Linked DNA regions of Homo sapiens: region 1 is linked to region 2. Evidence: fine-mapped expression QTL. A gene starts in region 2. The other region holds a variant in brackets. All regions are shown on one strand. Distances are between the middles of the regions.

Evidence for each region. PIP is the estimated chance that this variant, and not a neighbour inherited with it, causes the effect.
Region 1: its variant is fine-mapped to the expression of SLC23A3 in unexposed skin (GTEx, PIP 0.90).

Annotation. Positions count from the first base shown.
Region 1 is chr2:219,191,066-219,200,004 of GRCh38, reverse strand. No RefSeq gene overlaps it. Among named protein-coding and RNA genes, the nearest start is that of ZFAND2B, 11 kb to the left of the region's middle. The variant A/G (reference allele first, on the strand shown) is at 3,126.
Region 2 is chr2:219,164,795-219,174,690 of GRCh38, reverse strand. It overlaps SLC23A3 (solute carrier family 23 member 3), which reads left to right and starts at 4,662. Exons shown (of 12, transcript NM_001144889.2): 1 at 4,662-4,868; 2 at 5,013-5,170; 3 at 5,285-5,382; 4 at 5,589-5,662; 5 at 5,858-6,039; 6 at 6,373-6,496; 7 at 6,647-6,761; 8 at 9,269-9,522. The coding sequence starts at 4,707. CNPPD1 (cyclin Pas1/PHO80 domain containing 1) reads left to right here. Exons shown (of 8, transcript NM_015680.6): 6 at 484-545; 7 at 1,224-1,341; 8 at 1,563-2,794. The coding sequence ends at 2,105. RefSeq lists enhancers at 3,116-3,165, 3,216-3,375.

The sequences.
Region 1 (8,939 bases), 26 kb before region 2:
ATCTGCTAAATACCAACTGGAGTTGTCAGGTCTTAGATGCAGCAACTAGTTCAAAGTGAGAAGGACCGAATACAGTGGCTTTCCAAGTTTTTCAGCTTTGACCTACGGTAAGAAATATATCTTACATCTCCTCCCAATGTATATAAATATAAAATCAATGTTGTTTAAGCTGCACCGAATTGATTGCACAGCCCACTAATTTCATAACTCCACGTTTGAAACCGATGCTCTAATGGGAAGGTGCAGGACACGGAAATGGGAGCCAGTAATGGCCAAGAGTGAGGCTGGGGAGGCACAGTGAGAGTGCTTCAGGCAGACAAGATGCCAAATGCACTCTAGCCAGAGGCGGGGCCTGGGGAGAGCAGCACAAAGGTTATGGATGACCTTCAAGTAGAGCTCAGAGGAGTCTGAGGGTGCAAGAGGTGAGAGGTGAAAGAGACTCTGCTAAATGTGGTAAAATGAATGCATGTGATTTTATGTTTGCTTCCTTCCCAAACCCCACCAAAATAACAGTAAAACAATAAGGAGAACAGAAGCGAAAACAATACATGAAGATATGACAAAAACATTTTGGGAGCTAAACATCTGATGGAAGAAGGAAAACTGACTAGGGTCCGAGGAAGTTGAAACGGTGGGAACAACAAGCGGCAGGCCAGTGTTGACTTCGTTGCCGCTGAAAGGCTTGGGACTGGGAGCATCAAGCTTTCCAAAGGTAGGGGTGGAAGGAGGGGGCTGGAAATGAAGGGTGAGTTTAAACTCGACATAAGGAGCAGTTAGACCCTCATGTTCCCTCCTCCAGCCTGGGCAGCTGGGTGACTGCCCCTCTCCCACTGCCCCCCCAGAAAAGGCAGGAGGTATCTGGGTTCTCTGGAGAGAATGAAGCAATGGGTCCCTGGGCTTCAGGTTGTCAGCCAGCTGAGGGTGAAGAGGGAGAGAAACTGCAGCTATTTTCTCCTGACTCTAGAGCACTAGCAGCCAGGTTCATGGTCCCCAGGCCAGAGGCTGCAGGGTTCTTCTCTGGAAGAACCGAGCAGCCTAAAAATTCTCTGGGCATTGAGGGATCTCAACACAATGGTTGTCTCTGCCACCTCACCCTGCAGGGAAGATGCAAATCTTCGAATTTTAGAGAGCATTCAGTTGGCCTTTAAGTGCCTCTGCTCAGATATGAAGGAGCAAACCAGGGTTTGAGGGAAGTCTCTTCCATGAAAGACAGAAGCCAAAATAAAGACATAAATGGTGGTGAGGAGGAAAACAAGTACAATGCAGGGAATGTAAAAATATAATTTATATAACTAGACTACTAATAATATAATAATATAACTTATTAAGAATGCTCAGGGCTGGGGGCAGTGGCTCACGCCTGTAATCCCAACACTTTGGGAGACTGAGGTGGGCAGATCACCTGAGGTCAGGAGTTCGAGACCAGCCTGGCCAACATGGTAAAACCCTGTCTCTACGAAAAATACAACAATTAGCTGGTGTGGTGGTGGGTGCCCATAGTCCCAGCTACTTGGGAGGCTGAGGCAGGAGAATCGCTTGAACCCAGGAGGCAGAGGTTGCAGTGAGCCAAGATGGCGCCACTACACTCCAGCCTGGGCAACAGAGTGAGACTCTGTCTCAAAAAAAAAAAAAAAAAAAAAAAAAGAGAATGATTAGGCCAGGCGTGGTGGCTCACGCCTGTAATTCCAGCACCTTGGGAGGCCAAGGCAGTTGGATCACTTGAGGTCAGGAGTTTGAGACCAGACTGGCCAACATGGCGAAACCCTGTCTCTACTAAAAATACAAAAATTAGCTGGGCTTGGTAGCAGGCGCCTGTAATCCCAGCTACTCGGGAGACTGAGGCAGGAGAATCACTTGAACCCGGGAGGCAGAGGTTACAGTGAGCTGAGATAGTGCCACTGCACTCCAGCCTAGGCGACAGAGTAAGACTCTGTCTCAAAAAAAAAAAAAAAAGAAAATGATTAATATTAATACAGTGTACTCAGGAAGCAGATTTTTTTTTTTTTTGAGATGGAGTTTTACTCTTGTTGCCCAGGCTGGAGTGCAGTGGCACGATCTCGGCTCACCACAACCTCCACCTCCCAGGTGCAAGCGATTCTCCTGCCTCAGCCTCCCTAGTAGCTGGGATTACAGGCATGCACCACCATGCCCGACTGATTTTGTATTTTCAGTAGAGACGGGGTTTCTCCATGTTGGTCAGGCTGGTCTCGAACTCCCGACCTCAGGTGATCCACCCGCCTTGGCCTTCCAAAGTGCTGGGATTACAGGTGTGAGCCACTGTGCCCAGCTCAGGGAGCAGATTTTTCATTTAACACACAGGAGCAAAAAAACATAAAAAGGGATATTCAAGCCAGGTGTAATGGTGTGTACCTGTAATCCCAGCTACACAGGAGGCTGAAGCAAGAGGTTTGCTCAAGCCCAGGAGTTGGAGTCCAGATTGAGCAACATAGTGAAATTCTATCTCATAAAATGGGGGGTGGGGAGGACAGGGGGAAGGATATTCAGAAAATAAAGCTCTTAGACATTTTTAAAAATATAATCACAGAAATATAGCACATTCCAAAGAATGGGTACAACATAAAGTTGAGAAAATATAGGAAGTAGAACAAAAAAATGTAAAGGAATGGAAAATAAGCAAAGTAGAATATCAGTCCAGGAGTTTCAAGATTTTATGAACAGGAGTGCCCAAAACAGAAACTGGATGGGAGGAAATTATTTTTCAAAAAGTAGAGGTTAGAAGCTGGGCGCGGTGGCTTACTCCTGTAATCCCAGCACTTTGGGATGCTGAGGTGGGCGGATCATGAGGTCAGGAGATCGAGACCATCCTGGCTAACATGGTGAAACCCGGTCTCTACTAAAAATACAAAAAATTAGCCGGGCGTGGGGGCGGGTGCCTGTAGTCCCAGCTACTCGGGAGGCTTGAGGCGGGAGAATGGCATGAACCCAGGAGGCAGAGCTTGCAGTGAGCCGAGATTGTGCCACTGCACTCCAGCCTGGGCGACAGAGTGAGACTCTGTCTCAAAAAAAAAAAAAAAAAAAAATGAGTCAGCCTTGGTAGTGGACGCCTGTAATCCCAGCTACTTGGGAGGCTGAGGCACGAGGATTGCTTGAACCAGGGAGGCGGA[A/G]GTTGCAGTGAGCCGAGATCCTGCCATTGCACTCCAGCCAGGGCGACGGAGGGAGACTCCGTCTCAGAAAAAAAAAAAAAAAGAAAAAAGAAAAAGAAAAATAGCTGGGCATGGTGGCTCACGCCTGTAATCCCAGCTACTTGGGAGACTGAGGCAGGAGATTGCCTGAACCCAGAGGGCAGAGGTTGCAGTGAGTCAAGATCACACCACTGCACTCCAGCCTGGGCTACAGAGGGAGACTCCATCTCAAAACAAAACAAAACAGGCTGGGTGCGGTGGCTCACGCCTGTAATCTCAGCACTTTGGGAGGCCGAGGCGGGTGGATTACCTGAGGTCAGGAGTTTGAGACCAGCCTGGCCAACACGGAGAAACCCATCTCTACTAAAAATACAAAAATTAGCTGGGCATGGTGACACATGCCTGTAGTCCCAGCTGCTCAGGAGGCTGAGGCAGGAGAATCACTTGAACCTGGGAGGCGGAGATTGCAGTGAGCTGAGATCACACCACTGCACTCCAGCCTGGGCAACAGAGCAAGCCTCCGTCTCAAAAACAAAAACAAAAAAACGCGAAAAAAAACCCTGCACAGTCTGAGGAGTTTGTTAAGATAAGGGAGGCGGCCAGGTGCGGTGGCTCACATCTGTAATCCCAGCACTTTGGGAGGCTAAGGCAGGCAGATCACAAGGTCAGGAGTTCGAGACCTGCCTGGCCAACATGGTGAAACCGTGTCTCTACTAAAAATACAGAAATTAGCCAGGCATGGTGGTAGGCGCCTGTTATCCCAGCTACTCGGGAGGCTGAGGCAGGAGAATCTCTTGAAACTGGAAGGTGGAGGTTGCAGTGAGTCTAGATCGCGCCACTGCACTAGAGCCTGGGCAACAAGAGCAAGACTCTGTCTCAAAGAAAAAAAAAATGGAGAGGCTGTCTGGACCTTCTCCTGAACCCCACCTCCTATCATTTGTTGGGAATCTGTTTTCAAGGAATGCAAGGCTTATTTGTGTTCTGTCTCTTCAAACCTGCTTTCTTGAGTCAGATTCGAGCTCTGTTCCTCAGTTTTACTTCCTGAGAAGCTTCCTGGCTTCTTTTGTTTTCCCTCAGCCAGAATTAGCCTCATCTTCAGGAAAGTTTAGGTGGTCCCTTAACATTAAAACCAAGGTCCTAGTGGCTTTGAATCTTTAATCACAGCCTCTAAGCCCTCTCCTGCCATGGGGCTAGCCACCTCTGCCTTTCAGGGGCCTGCCTTTAGCTTGTCTGAGCTCAGTCTTGAAGAGTGACTCAGGATTGTCCAGGTGAGATGGACAGAAAAGTGGTCCTGACTGAAAGATGCAAATACAAGAGAGGAATGAGAAGGGAGGGTTATAAACACCTGCTGTTCTGGGGTTGGAATATCCCATTAGAGGAAGGAAATGGGGAGAGATATGAAGCTGAACAGCCAGGTAATTTTTGTATTGTTTTGAAATGTGTGTGTATAAACATCTATATTCAGGTGGCAAAAACTAGGGTTCAAACTCACCTCCTGCTTCCAAGTTTAGCAGTTTTCCCATATAACCAGAGGGTACTATCAGTTAGATCAGTGGTGATCCACCAGGGCAATTTTGCCTCCAGGGGATATTTGGGGGGTGGGGAGGTAGGAGGGGGGTGTCTTTTGGCATCAAATGGGTGGCAAGCAAGCGAGGATGATACTAAACATTCTACGTCGCCTGGGCAACATGGCGGGACCCAGGCGCTACAAAAATTTTAAAAATTAGAAAGAATGAATAAGACCTAGTATTTGCTAGCACAACAGAGTGACTATAGTCAAAAATAATTTAATTGTACATTTAAAAATAACTAAAAGAGTATAATTGGATTGTTTGTAACACAAAGGATAAATGCTTGAGGTGATGGATACCCCCATTTGCCCTGGTGTCATTATTACTCATTGCATGCCTGTATCAAAATATCTCATGTACCCCATAAATATATACACCTACAATGTACCCACACACATTAAAAATTAAAAAAAAAATTTTCTAATTAGCTGAGTGTGGTGGCACACAACTGTAGTCCCCATATACTTGGGAGGCTGAAGTGGGAGGATCACTTGAGCCCAGGAGGTTGAGGCTGCAGGTGAGCTGTGTTCATGCCACTGCACTCCAGCCTGGGCAACAAAGTGAGACCCTGTCTCAAAAACAAAAAAACAAAACAAAACAAAAACCCAAAACCAACCAAACAAAAAACATTCTACAATGAATAAGACAGTCAGCCCCACCTACCACCAAATAATAATTATCTGGCTCAAAATGTCAGTAGTACAGTCTTTGAGAAACCCTGATTTAGACGAAATGTAAAACTGGAGCTATTCTGAGTTCAAATCCCAGTGCCAGTAATTACCAGCGGTTAGAAATGGAAAGACCAGTGCACAGTGACTTCACTAGTATTTCAGTATTTATTTTATATAAAATGGTAATTTATTTTTAAAGCAAAATGTTCAACATTAAAAACAAAATGCTTAATACCTTTGAAAGACAAACATTTATGTATATATTTATATATAACTAAATGTAGAAATATGACTTAAATATAATTATTTTAATATAAATCAACAGAAGTAATAACATGTTAAAGTAAAAAATTAAACTCTAATAAAAATGAAAATGTAATCATAAATAATTGAAAATAAAATTATTTGCTCTTTTTATTTTTTTATTTTTTGAGATGGAGTCTCACTCTGTTGCCCAGGCTGGAGTGCAGTGGCGCGATCTCCACTGACCACAACCCCTGCCTCCCGGGTTCAAGCTGGGTTCAAGCAACTCTCCTGCCTCAGCCTTCTGAGTAGCTGGTATTACAAGCACGCACCACCACACCCAGCTAATTTTTGTATTTTTAGTAGAGATGAGGTTTCACCATGTTGGTCAGGCTGGTCTCGAACTCCTAACCTCAAATGATCCACCCACCTCGGCCTCCCAAAGTGCTGGGATTACAGGTGTGAGCCACCATTCCTGGCCTGCTTTATTTAAGACTAGAGATCTCTTGGCCGGGCATGGTGGCTCACACCTGTAATCCCAGCACTTTGGGAGGCCAAGGTGGGTGGATCACGAGGTCAGGAGATCGAGACCATCCTGGCTAATACAGTGAAACCCTGTCTCTACTAAAAATACAAAAAAATAGCCGGGCGTGGTGGCGGGCGCCTGTAGTCCCAGCTATTCGGGAGGCTGAGGAGGGAGAATGGCGGGAACCCGGGAGGCGGAGCTTGCAGTGAGCCACGATGGCACCATTGCGCTCCAGCCTGGGCAACAGAGTGAGACTCTGTCTCAAAAAGAATAGAGATCTCTTAAAATATATAAAGGTGTTACTGTTAAGTTGCAAATGTATTTTTTGTGCAAATTTTGCTAGCTTCTAAAAAGCTCTTTCTGGTGTTATACTACTCAGGAGAATGGTAAAGAGATGGTTATAATTTAACTTCACATAGTTATTTCATTATTTCTTGTTTAAATAATCTCATCTCTTGTTTGGTAACTTTGAGGAGTTTTATTTTTTTTCCTTTTTTTAAAAAAATAGCTCTCATGATCCTGGATGAGATCTTTTTGAACAATTATTTTGTTTCTTTGCATAGATGTGTTTTTTTGTTTTAAATTCTGGTGAGCTCTAGTTTTTTCTTCAAAGGACATATTTTTGGTTTGAATCCATCTTTTCTCAGTTATTTTTTATTTATTTATTTATTTTTTAGAGATCGGGTCTCACTCTGTCACCCATTCTGGAGTGCAATAGCATGATCATGGCTCACTGCAGCCTCAAACTTCTGGGCTCAAGGGATCCTTCTGTCTCAGCCTCCCAAAAAGCTGGGATTACAGGCATGAGCCACCATGCAGAGCCCTATATCCATCTTTTTCAATTTCATTGAATATAGATTGAGATTCTGATGCAGAAAACTCATTTAAAATTTAATGTCCTGTTTCTAAGGTCTACTTGTTTAAAGAGTCTTTGAACTAGAATAACTGTTGTCGCAACAGAAGCTTGTTTTGTCCATTGACATTTTTTTCTCCTTTTGAAGTCTGTGGAATGCAACAATGCTTTCTAAACAAATAAGCCCTTGTGTGTTCAAATTTTTAATGCAGCTATACCTCATTTACAAATGATCTAGAAGTCAGATCTCTTTTTTTAATGCTTAAAGAATTATTTCACTTAGGGCCGGGCGCAGTGGCTCACGCCTGTAATCCCAGCACTTTGGGAGGCCGAGGCAGGTGGAGGTCAGGAGTTCAAGACCAGCCTGACCAACGTAGTGAAACTCCGTCCCTACTAAAAAAATACAAAAATTTGCCAGGCATGGTGGTGTGCACCTATAGTCCCAGCTACTCGGGAGGCTGAGGCAGAAGAATCTCTTGAACCCGGGAGGCGGAGGTAGCAGTGATCCCAGATTGTGCCACTGCACTCCAGCCTGAGTGACAGAGCGATACTCTGTCTCAAAAAAACTAAATAAATAAATAAAAGGAATTATTTCGCCTCAACTAAAGTTCTGTTTTGGTACTTTAAAATATGAGGATATGTGGGAATACCAGAATACTGAAAAACAGTATTGTGATCACAACCAGCTGCGTGACTTTGGCCAAGTCATTTTACCTCAATAAGCCTCCAGTTCCTCATCTATAAAAATCAGTTCCTACATCAATGCGGAGTGATGAAGATTAAATAAAATGATGCATGTAAAGCACTGAATTCTATGACTGACACATACTCAATAATTAACAAATGTATATTATTAGTTGTTTGTGCTTTTTTTTTTTATGAGACAGGGTCTTGCTCTGTTGCCTAGGTTGGAGTGCAGTAGCTCAGTTACGGCTCACTGCAGCCTCAACCTCATGGGCTCAAGCGATCCTCCTGCCTCAGCTTCCAGAGTAGCTGAGATCATAGGCACAAGCACCTCACCTGGCTAATTTTTTAATTATATATATTTTATAGAGATGGGGGGGTGGGTCTCACTATGTTGCCTAGGCTGGTCTTGAACTCTTGGCCTCCCAAAGTGCTGGGATTACAGGCGTAAACCACTGCACCCAGCCTATTTTTATTAAGATGGGGCCTCACTCTGTTACCCAGGCTGGAATGCAGTGGCACGATTATAGCTCACTGTAGCCTCGAATTCCTAGGTTCAAGTGATCCTACCACCTCAGCATGAGCCACCACGCCCGACTTGTTTGTATATTTCTTAGTTATTACTAAATTTGTTCATTTCTCATGTGTTGATAAATTGTATTTTTAATTTTAAAAAATTAGTACATTGTCAGTCCAAATCCTTTGATATAATTTCCAAGTAAATTTTGTGTGGTAGTTTAAAACTATATCTACAATTTCTTTGATACTTCTCCCTTCAAGAGGTGGATTTTTTTTTTTTTTTGAGACGGAGTCTTGCTGTGTCGCCCAGGCTGGAGTGCAGTGGCACGATCTCGGCTCACTGCAACCTCCGCCTCCTAGGTTCAAGCGATTCTTGTGTCTCAGCCTCCTGAGTAGCTGGGATTACAGGCACATGCCACCACACCCAGCTTATTTTTGTATTTTAGTAGAGACAGGGTGTCACCAGGTTGGCCAGGATGGTCTCGAACTCCTGACCTCGTGATCTGCCCACCTCAGCCTCCCAAAGTGCTGGGATTACAGGCGTGAGCCACCACACCCGGCCAACTACCCAGATTCCTAATCCTCAGAAGTAGTGTGAGATAATGTTTGTTGTTTTAGGCTGCTAACTTTAGAGTAGTTTGTTATGCAGAAGTAAATTATCAGTACACTTTGGTATTGACACTTTTTACTGAAGTGTTGTCTTAGTCCATTTGGGCTGCTATAACTAAA
Region 2 (9,896 bases):
GTTCGTCATTTCTCTTCCTGTCCTCCTCCTGCCTTTGTGTTAGTGTCTTCCTTTCCTATCTCTTCAGTACTAACCAGTTTTTGGAGATTCGTAGAGCAGTAAGGCCAAGAGCAGAACATTTCCTCGCCTCCTCTATTCCTCCAGGGCCCCACAGGGTACACTCTGAGTCAGAGTTTATCCTATTGGGTTCTGAATATTTGTGTCCATACTTTCTCTGCCCCTAGATGTTTAGCTCCCTGTGGACACAGACCATTCTCAGGGTCATTTTCTCCCCTCTTGCTTAGTGGAGAGTATAATGTGAAACCAGGCAGGTGGTGATTCAATGAGTTAATGTGTAAAAACTTTTGAGACAGTATCTGGCACATGGTAAGTGCCAAATATGCATTAGCCATAGGGGCGGTTGTAGTTGCTGCTATGGCTCTTATTATTAAATGACTGTGGCTCATCCAAGTCTGGTTTGATGTCCACTCTCCGTACTCACAGGATTGGCATCTCTACACTGACCCTCGGGAGATCTTTGAGGTGCTGAGCTGGTTGGAGAGCTGGTAGGTTCTAGGAGTTGGGAAGAAGGGCTCGAGGGATTTGGGGGCTGAGTCCTCAGCCATAGGAGCTAGAGATGAGAGTCTGTGTAACTGGGGGAGGGAGGAGACAAGAAAGAGAATTGCCCAGATAGTGGTTCCCAGACCCATCTGTCCTCTTCTTCATCACCTTTGGGAAGGTGAGAAGCAGCTTATTTAAAATACATGTATTGGGTGGGTATGGTAGTTATGTCTATAATCCTAGCACTCTGGGAGGGTGAGGCTGGAGGATTACTTGGGTCCAGGAGTTCGAGACCAGCCTGGGCAATATAGCAAGATGCCTGACCCTACCAGAAAAAAATACTAGCCAGATGCAGTGGTGTACACCCATAATCCCAGCTACTCAGGAGGCTGAGACAAGAGGATCATTTGAGTCCAGGATGTTGAGTCTGCAGTGAGCTATGATTGCACTACTGCACTCCAGCCTGGGAGACAGCAAGATCCTGTCTTAACAAAATAAATAAATAAAAATAAATAAAATATAGGTCTTGGTCTCACCCTTAGTTTCTAGATCAGCAGATAGCCTAGGAATCTGGGTTTAACAGGCTTCCCAGTGTTTCCTGGTGGGTCCTGAGTGGTATGAGGGTGCCACTGGGCTGGCTGCAGGACAGTTGCATACTCTTGTCATTTCTCCACTTCCCCCAGTGTGGCTGAGCAGCAGGGACGGTGGCGAGGCTGGTACACCTACACAGACCTGTGTGTGCTGCTGGAGCAGCCGACCTGGCAGTTGGCCCTGGGCTCCCTCTGCCAGCGGCTGGTAAAGGTGAGGAGGGGCTCGGAAGGATAGGGAGCTTGAGCAGGCCGGTGTGTAGGGTGGGATGGTGTGAAGTGATTGCTGAAAAGCCCAGGAGATGGGGTTGGGAATAGATGGGCAGAGTGGGGTGTAAATGGCTATAGAGACCTCCAACTGGAACACAGATTTCTAGAGACAAGGGGTGAATGTGTTAAAGACAGATTCCTTCTTTCTTATCTCCTCTCCTGCAGCTGTCTTGCCTGTTAGCTGTGGCATATGTGAGCAGTGTGGCCCTGGCTGTGGCATCGGTGGCCGTAATACATCAGTCTTTGGGGCTGTCCTGCATCCCTACACCTGGGCCGCCTGACCTTGGACTGACCTCCCGTTGCCTCCTGGAGCCCTGCATACCTTCTGTGCCACAATGCCTGCCGTCTCTCGCTAATGTCTCCAGCTGCCTGGAAGGCAGCATGGGGCTGCGGTCACTCTGGGGCAGTCTTCTGGCCTCACTGACTCCTCCACCATTGCCTCCCCCAGACCCCCCTGCCCCTCCCACTCTTCTTCATAACTGCCACCTTTGCCAGAAGCTCCAGAGAGACTCCCCAACCTGCCATGCCTGCCTCCACCCCAACCGTACAGTCCCCACTGCGCTGTCCAGCCCCTGGTACCATACCTATGGCCTGGCTCCCCCCTGGCCTTGGAGCCCGGTGCTCCTTTCACTTCCTCAGCCTCAGCAATGTTCCCTTTTCAGTGTCATGGAGCTGGCTCGCCTCAAGTCTTTCGTTTTCCCAGGCTAGGTAGGGCTGTGAGGAATGCATTAAGAGGGTTTGGGAGTTTCTGAGAACCTGGAGGAGCAAAGCTTGATTCAGATCCTGTCTGCCTCGCTGGGTCCTTGGCAGGTCCCCTGTCCTCCTGGGTGGGAGCTTATGGGGTGGTGGGGCAGAAGGACTGAAGGTAATTCACTCCTAGATCGCAGTGGCTGGCTGCTTGGCCAGGACAGTGATGCCGCCAGGGAGAGCTTCCGCTTGGTGACCAGGGACATGTCCCAGATGGACATAGAAGCCCCTCTCTGCCTCCCTGGGATTTTTTAGACTTTTACTTTTGATTTCCCTAGGATGGAAGAGTATAGGTGGGAGATAAGGGAAGTGGGGTGAGAGGAGAAAGGAAATGTTGGCATGGGCCTGTGTGATGTCCCTGAGGCAGAAGAGCCGGGGACTGATGGGTTCAGGTGGGAGCTGCTGGGTGAGGCAGGGAACCCTTTTCACTCCCATTCCTTAGCTTTAGTCTAATGGAGCCAAGGACTGCTGGGACCTTCAACCCTGATCTTTTGTCTTCCAGTCTTCTCTTAGTGTCCTGCTCCTAGGTTTCCCTCTCTTCTGGTTCTTCTCCCAGGTATTCTCTTCCCAGGCCTCTCTGGCCACTGCTTTGTATCAGGGTTTTTCACGCTTTTGTAGAACTGAGGTTTCAATAAACAGTTTCAGTTGCATGGCCTGGACTTTTCCTTCTGCGGCAGCCCTTGAAGATTTTTCCTCCCTGTATCTGCCTTCCAAGCCTCCCTGCTTCCTGATCCTGTCATCTCACAAACTGTTTTCTCAGCCTCATCTCAGGACTTTCCTATCGTTTGATAGGCATAGGCTTCCATTTCCAACTTTGTTCCTGCTCCCAGGACCCTGGGCCCTAGCACTGCTCAACTTGGGATGCCATGGGACACACATGGTGACTGTCCTGTCCCTGAGTTGGCCTTGTCTGTCACTTGTTCTGGGTAAGCACTCTCCTTGTGGATCCCAAAGCACATCTCGTGGAGAGGGGCCAGGCCTTGTAACCAGCAGAGCCTTGTGAGCTCCTGAGGGCAAGCCACGAGGACGCTTCTCTCTCCTGACCTCCTCACTGGTCTGACACATGGTGATGGTCACATGGTGCTTAACAATTCCAAGAACTTGAAGAACTCCAAGGCTGGGTCATCACTGGAGGAAGGAAAACAGTCTGGGCAGCTTGGCTGAGGGTATTTGGGACTGCTGAGGATACTTCACGGAAGAAGTGGTTCTGCCCCCTAGGGGGCATTTTGGAAATTTATGGGCTATTTTTTCATTGTCAAAAGGATTCAAGGGGATGGGGTGCTACTGGCATTTCGTCAACCTGGGCGGGATGCTAGACATCATGAAATGCTCAGACCTCCCGTACTGTGAAGAATTCCCAAGACAACTTTTGAATGACCAGCTTTATGTATATGAAAACCCTGTTTATCTGAGCCTAGAACTGTCTTTGCACATGTAAACGTGAAATAGCGTTTGTGCGTTTTGAAAAGACTCAGTTTGCTAGGAATTCATTCCCATGTAAATTAAGACGACTTTATTTTGCTTGGCACCTTAACCAAGAGTTTGTTTGCCATTTTGAAAATCGGGTTACCAACATCAGAGTCACCGATAAAGCACCAATATCAGCTGGCATTGCAGCTATTGCAACCACAGCAATTCTCATAGGGTGTGGGATTGGACTACTTCATTGTACTTTATTGTCTTCTGGTTTAGTTGTGCTTAAGCCTTCACGTAATGAAATACATGTTATTATAAATTTTATTCTTTACAGTGAGCATGTTTCAGGTAGTTGTGGTTGTCACATGTGATGTAGGATATATTGTCCACAAGTTTCTTTTTTTCTTTTTTCTTTTTTTTTTTGACACAGTCTCACTCTGTCACCCAGGCTGGAGTGCAGTGGCACGGTCTCAGCTCACTACAACCTCCGCCTTCTGGGTTCGAGCAATTCTTGTGCCTCAGCCTCCCGAGTAGGTGGGATTACAGGGATGTGCCACCACATCCAGCTAAGTTTTGTATTTTTAGTAGAGATGGTTTCACCATGTTGCCAGGCTGGTCTTGAACTCCTCACCTCAAGTGATACACCCAGTTCGGCCTCCCAAAGTGGTGTGATTACAGGCATGAGCCACCATACTGAGCCCACAAGTTTCATTTTGAAGTAGTCCAGGGGCCTTGGTTCTGAAAGGGGTGAGGACTGTGGATCAAATAGTGATAGTTTTAAATGGGAGGGAATAAAGTCTGCAAAATTTCCCCATATTATTTTGAAGAGCTCCTCTCCTCCCCACCCCTCCTATCCTACTTTCTACAGCCTGGTCTAGGGGCAGGAAATCTGGAAGAAGATTCTCGGGGGAGGGCCCCAGAACTCAGCTCCCCAGTTAATGGCTGATGGAATTTGCACAACAGCTGGGCAAAGGTGAAAGGGTGGTGCCCTGCCCCAAATTCCTTATACCTTTGCTCCGCTTCATTGACACCCCCACCCTCTCCCCACCTTCTCCCCACCCCAGGCTTCACCCAAACTCTGACCTCTTACTCTCTCTACTTAACTCTGGTCCCGGGCAGCCAAGACAAAGCGAAAGGCAAGGCAGCATGAGCCGATCACCCCTCAATCCCAGCCAACTCCGATCAGTGGGCTCCCAGGATGCCCTGGCCCCCTTGCCTCCACCTGCTCCCCAGAATCCCTCCACCCACTCTTGGGACCCTTTGTGTGGATCTCTGCCTTGGGGCCTCAGCTGTCTTCTGGCTCTGCAGGTAGGAGGCAGAGGTGCAGGAGTTGGTGCTGCCTGATGGTGTGTGTGGGGAAGTAGGTGTAGATGTGGCATGTGAAAGCCTCTGGAAGTATTGTAGGTATTTCCACTTCTCTGAAGACTGCCCTCCCCATTCCTCCACCTGCAGCATGTCTTGGTCATGGCTTCTCTGCTCTGTGTCTCCCACCTGCTCCTGCTTTGCAGTCTCTCCCCAGGAGGACTCTCTTACTCCCCTTCTCAGCTCCTGGCCTCCAGCTTCTTTTCATGTGGTATGTCTACCATCCTGCAAACTTGGATGGGCAGCAGGTGAGAGGAACCTCCCTGGAGAGAGGGGCAGAGTCCTGGAGGGTAGGAGAGGTTTGGGGGAGCCTTGCTGGCTGCCACATAGTCCCAGACCTGCTGGGGCTGCTGTTCCTACAGGCTGCCTCTTGTCCAGGCTCCATCCTTAGAGTTCCTTATCCCTGCTCTGGTGCTGACCAGCCAGAAGCTACCCCGGGCCATCCAGACACCTGGAAACTGTGAGCACAGAGCAAGGGCAAGGGGTAAGGGTGGGGCTGGGTTCTCATCTGAGCATGCAGGTGTAGGTGGGTGCAGAATTGAGATTGGGCAGTGGTGAGACTGTGACACTATAGGGGGCTTGGACCTGTGCCAGGAGTGGGACTGTAGAGCAATGGGTCTCCATTCCATTCACCCTTCTCTTCTCCATGCCCCAAACTTTTCCTAGCCTCCCTCATGCTGCACCTTTGTAGGGGACCTAGCTGCCATGGCCTGGGGCACTGGAACACTTCTCTCCAGGAGGTGGGTATCTGGAGGTGAGAAGGGATAAGGGTGGTGCCAGGCTTGGGGGGGGCTCTTGTTTCCATTATGCACAGACTGAGATGCTCCTGGAAAGGAGTTTTGGGAGGAACCCATACTTAGAATTAGGAAGACCAGGCTGAGGCCAGTTTGATTGAGCAGAATGTTTTCTCTCCATCCTCTCCTCTCTTCTACCAGGTGTCCGGGGCAGTGGTAGTATCTGGGCTGCTGCAGGGCATGATGGGGCTGCTGGGGAGTCCCGGCCACGTGTTCCCCCACTGTGGGCCCCTGGTGCTGGCTCCCAGCCTGGTTGTGGCAGGGCTCTCTGCCCACAGGGAGGTAGCCCAGTTCTGCTTCACACACTGGGGGTTGGCCTTGCTGTACGTGAGTCCTGAGAGGCGTGGGATGGTGCCCAGTGGGGGTGTATGGGGGGACTAGGGGAGGGCAGAACTGCTGGTCCTATCAGATTCAGCAGCGACTGGAATAGGGACATATTTTATATTTGGAATCCAAGACTTTTCCTTGATTCATCTGGTCTCCTTGAATTTCACACTGTTTTCTGCTGTCCCCCAAGGTCACTTCCTATTCCTTCCATGGGAGTTTCCTTCTCTGGTATCACCCCCCGCTCTTATGATATTCTGCCCACTCCCACCTCCTTTCCCATCCCTCAGGATACCCACTGCCTCTTGCTCCTAAAGCCTTCTGTCTCCTAGGGTTATCCTGCTCATGGTGGTCTGTTCTCAGCACCTGGGCTCCTGCCAGTTTCATGTGTGCCCCTGGAGGCGAGCTTCAACGTCATCAACTCACACTCCTCTCCCTGTCTTCCGGCTCCTTTCGGTATGTGTGGGTCTGGGCAGGGCAGTAGAGGTCAGAAGGGCTGGCCTGGAGTGCTCACTCCATCCCCTACCTTTTGGCTTCTGTCTACCCCTGCAAGGCTGGCTCAGAAGGTTCTGGGGGAGGAGTTCTTTTCTCAGTCTCGCCCCTCAGGTGCTGATCCCAGTGGCCTGTGTGTGGATTGTTTCTGCCTTTGTGGGATTCAGTGTTATCCCCCAGGAACTGTCTGCCCCCACCAAGGCACCATGGATTTGGCTGCCTCACCCAGGTAGGTTTTCTCCTAGTCCTCCATTCTCTTGTTCAAATAAAGGTATCTATTTGAACTCAAAGAACTTAATGGATTTTATTTCTGAGTTAAATCCTGTGTTTTTTGAAAACATATAGGAGAGAGAAATTATCAGTCTGAGAGACAGACAATGCTAGCCCCTCACTGTAGGTGTTTTTTTGTTTGTTTGTTTGAGACAGGGTCTCACTCTGTCATACAGGGTGGAGTGCATGGCGTGATCATGGCTCACGCAACCTCAACCTCCCAGGCCCAGGTGATCCTCCCACCTAAGCCTCCGGAGTAGCTGGGACTACAGGTGTGCTTTTTTTTTTTTTTTTTTTTTTGTAGAGACAGGGTTTCACCATGTTGCCCAGGCTGGTCTCAAACTCCTGGGCTCAAGTGATCTGCTTGATTAAATGCTGGGATTACAGGCATGAGCCACTGTGCCCCATCCCACTGCAGGTGTTTTATTTGGGTCAGTGTTAGGAGACAGACATCTGTTGTTTCTGTAACCCCCGATACTCACTACCAATACTCCTTACCCAATGAACACATTTATGTTACCAGCCCCTATGGGCATTTGACTTGGCAACCTATGTATAAAGATTGCTTTTGAGGCATTGTATGTGAAATTTGCTCATTCTTCAATTTATTTATTTATTTAATTTACTTTTTGGGACAGGGTCTTGCTGTGTTACCCAGGCTGAGAGCATTGATGCAAACATGGCTCACTGCAGCCTCAACCTCCTTGGCTCAAGCTATCCTTGTGCCTCAGCCCCACAAGTAGCTGGGATTACAAGCGTGCACCACCATGCCTGGCTAATTTTTGTGTTGTTTTGTAGAGACGGGATTTCGCCATGTTGTCCAGGCTGGTTGTTCATTAATTTAATAAGGATCTGTTGACTGCTGATTATGTGCTAGGCACATGGTAGAGGACATAGTGATGAACATGACAGAAACAGTACTTGCCTTCAGGGAGCTTACAGTCTATTGGGGAATACAGATACTAATTAAAGAGTCACCCGAGGAAATATAAAATTGCCATTGTGGGAAGTGTAACCAAAGGGAGATACATTGTGTCCTAAGAGCTTATAATGGAGGCCAGGCACAGTGGCTCACACCTATAATCCCAGCACTTTGGGAGGCAGAAGCAGGAAGACTGCTTGAGGCAAGGATTTCGAGAGCAGCCTGGGTAATAAAGCAAGACTCCACTCTACAAAACATAAAAAAATTAGCTGGGCCTAGTGGCACATGCTTGTAGGCCTAGCTACTCAGGAGACTGAGGCAGGAGGATCACTTGAGCCCAGGAGTTGGAGGCTGCGGTGTGCTATGATTGCACCACTGCATTCTAGCCCAGGCGACAGAGTGAGACCTTGTTTATAAAAATAAAATAAAATAAATTAAAATAAAATAAATAAAATAAAATAAAATAAAATAGCCAGGCACCATGGCTCACACCTGAAATTCCAGCACTTTGGGAGGCTGAGGTGGGAGGATTGCTTGAGCTCAGGAGTTAGAGACCAGCCTGGGCAACATAGTGAGACCTCGTCTCTATTAACAGTATAAAAAATTAGCCAGATATGGTGGCATGCACCTTTAGTCCCAGTTACTTCAGAGGCTAAGGTGGGAGGATCGCTTGAGCCCGAGAGATTGAGGCTGCAGTGAGCTATGATTGCATTACTGCACTTCAGCCTGGGTAACAGAGCAAGGACCTGTCTCAAAACAAACAAACAAACCAAAAAACTTATAATAGGGAATTTGAATTTATCAGGGAGGTCAGTAAATTTTTTTTTTTTTTTTGAAATGGAGTTTCACTCTTGTCGCCCAGGCTGGAGTGCAATGGTGTGATCTTGGCTAACTGCACCTCCGCCTTCCGGGTTCAAGTGATTCTCCTGCTTCCACCTCCCAAGTGGCTGGGATTACAGGCATGCACCACCATGCCTGGCTAATTTTGTATTTTTAGTAGAGATGGGGTTTCACCATGTTGGCCAGGCTGGTCACAAACTCCTGACCTCAGGTGAGCCACCTGCCTTGGCCTCCCAAAGTGCTGGGATTACAGGCGTGAGCTACTGCACCCCGCCTAAGTAAGGATATTCTTGAGGATGTGGCCACTGAGTTGAGATGGAAGAGATGAGTAGGAGCTAACTAGACAAAGGCAGGAGGGAAGCGCATTCTAGTTGCAGGAAACTGCATATGCAAAGGCCCTGTGGTGGCTGGGAGCACAGCATGTACAAAGGCCTACAACAAGGCCAGTGTGGCAGGAATGAAGGAAGTGAGGCAGAGTGTGCTGGGAGATAAGGCTGCAGAGAGAGGGAAGGGCCAGACCAAAGAGGACCTTGTAGACCATGGTAAAGGCATGGGTCTTTCTCCTTAGAGTTCAGTAGTTTTGTCCCAAGACATTGTCTTCAAAGACATTGAGGCATCTAGGATTCTTGTGGCACAGGCTGTTGGAGGCAGGGGGTACTCCTGACTTGAGTCTGGCCCCAAAGTGGCTTCTTCTCCCTCCCCAGGTGAGTGGAATTGGCCTTTGCTGACGCCCAGAGCTCTGGCTGCAGGCATCTCCATGGCCTTGGCAGCCTCCACCAGTTCCCTGGGCTGCTATGCCCTGTGTGGCCGGCTGCTGCATTTGCCTCCCCCACCTCCACATGCCTGCAGTCGAGGGCTGAGCCTGGAGGGGCTGGGCAGTGTGCTGGCCGGGCTGCTGGGAAGCCCCATGGGCACTGCATCCAGCTTCCCCAACGTGGGCAAAGTGGGTCTTATCCAGGTACGTGGACCTGGGATGGGAGTGGGGTAGGATGGAGCTAGAGGGGAAGAAGAAGGACAGGAACTTACACCGATTGATTGCCAGGTGTGCCTAGCACCTCACATCAACTATCTTACTTGGGGAGGTGCCTAAGATTAGACTTTGGGCTAAGAGAGTGGGGAAGTGAACAAATCACCACGGAACTCCTGTGCATGAGGCACTGTATCAAGGCTAGGGCAAAGAACCAGTCACATAAAGTTCTGCTCTCTTGGGGACTTCATAGAGGGAGAGGCAGACAGTTGAAGGAAAAAAGTATCTTTTTAAAAAAGTGGGCCAGGCATGGTGGCTCACACCTGTAATCCTAGCACGTGGGGAGGCTGAGGCAGGCAGATCAC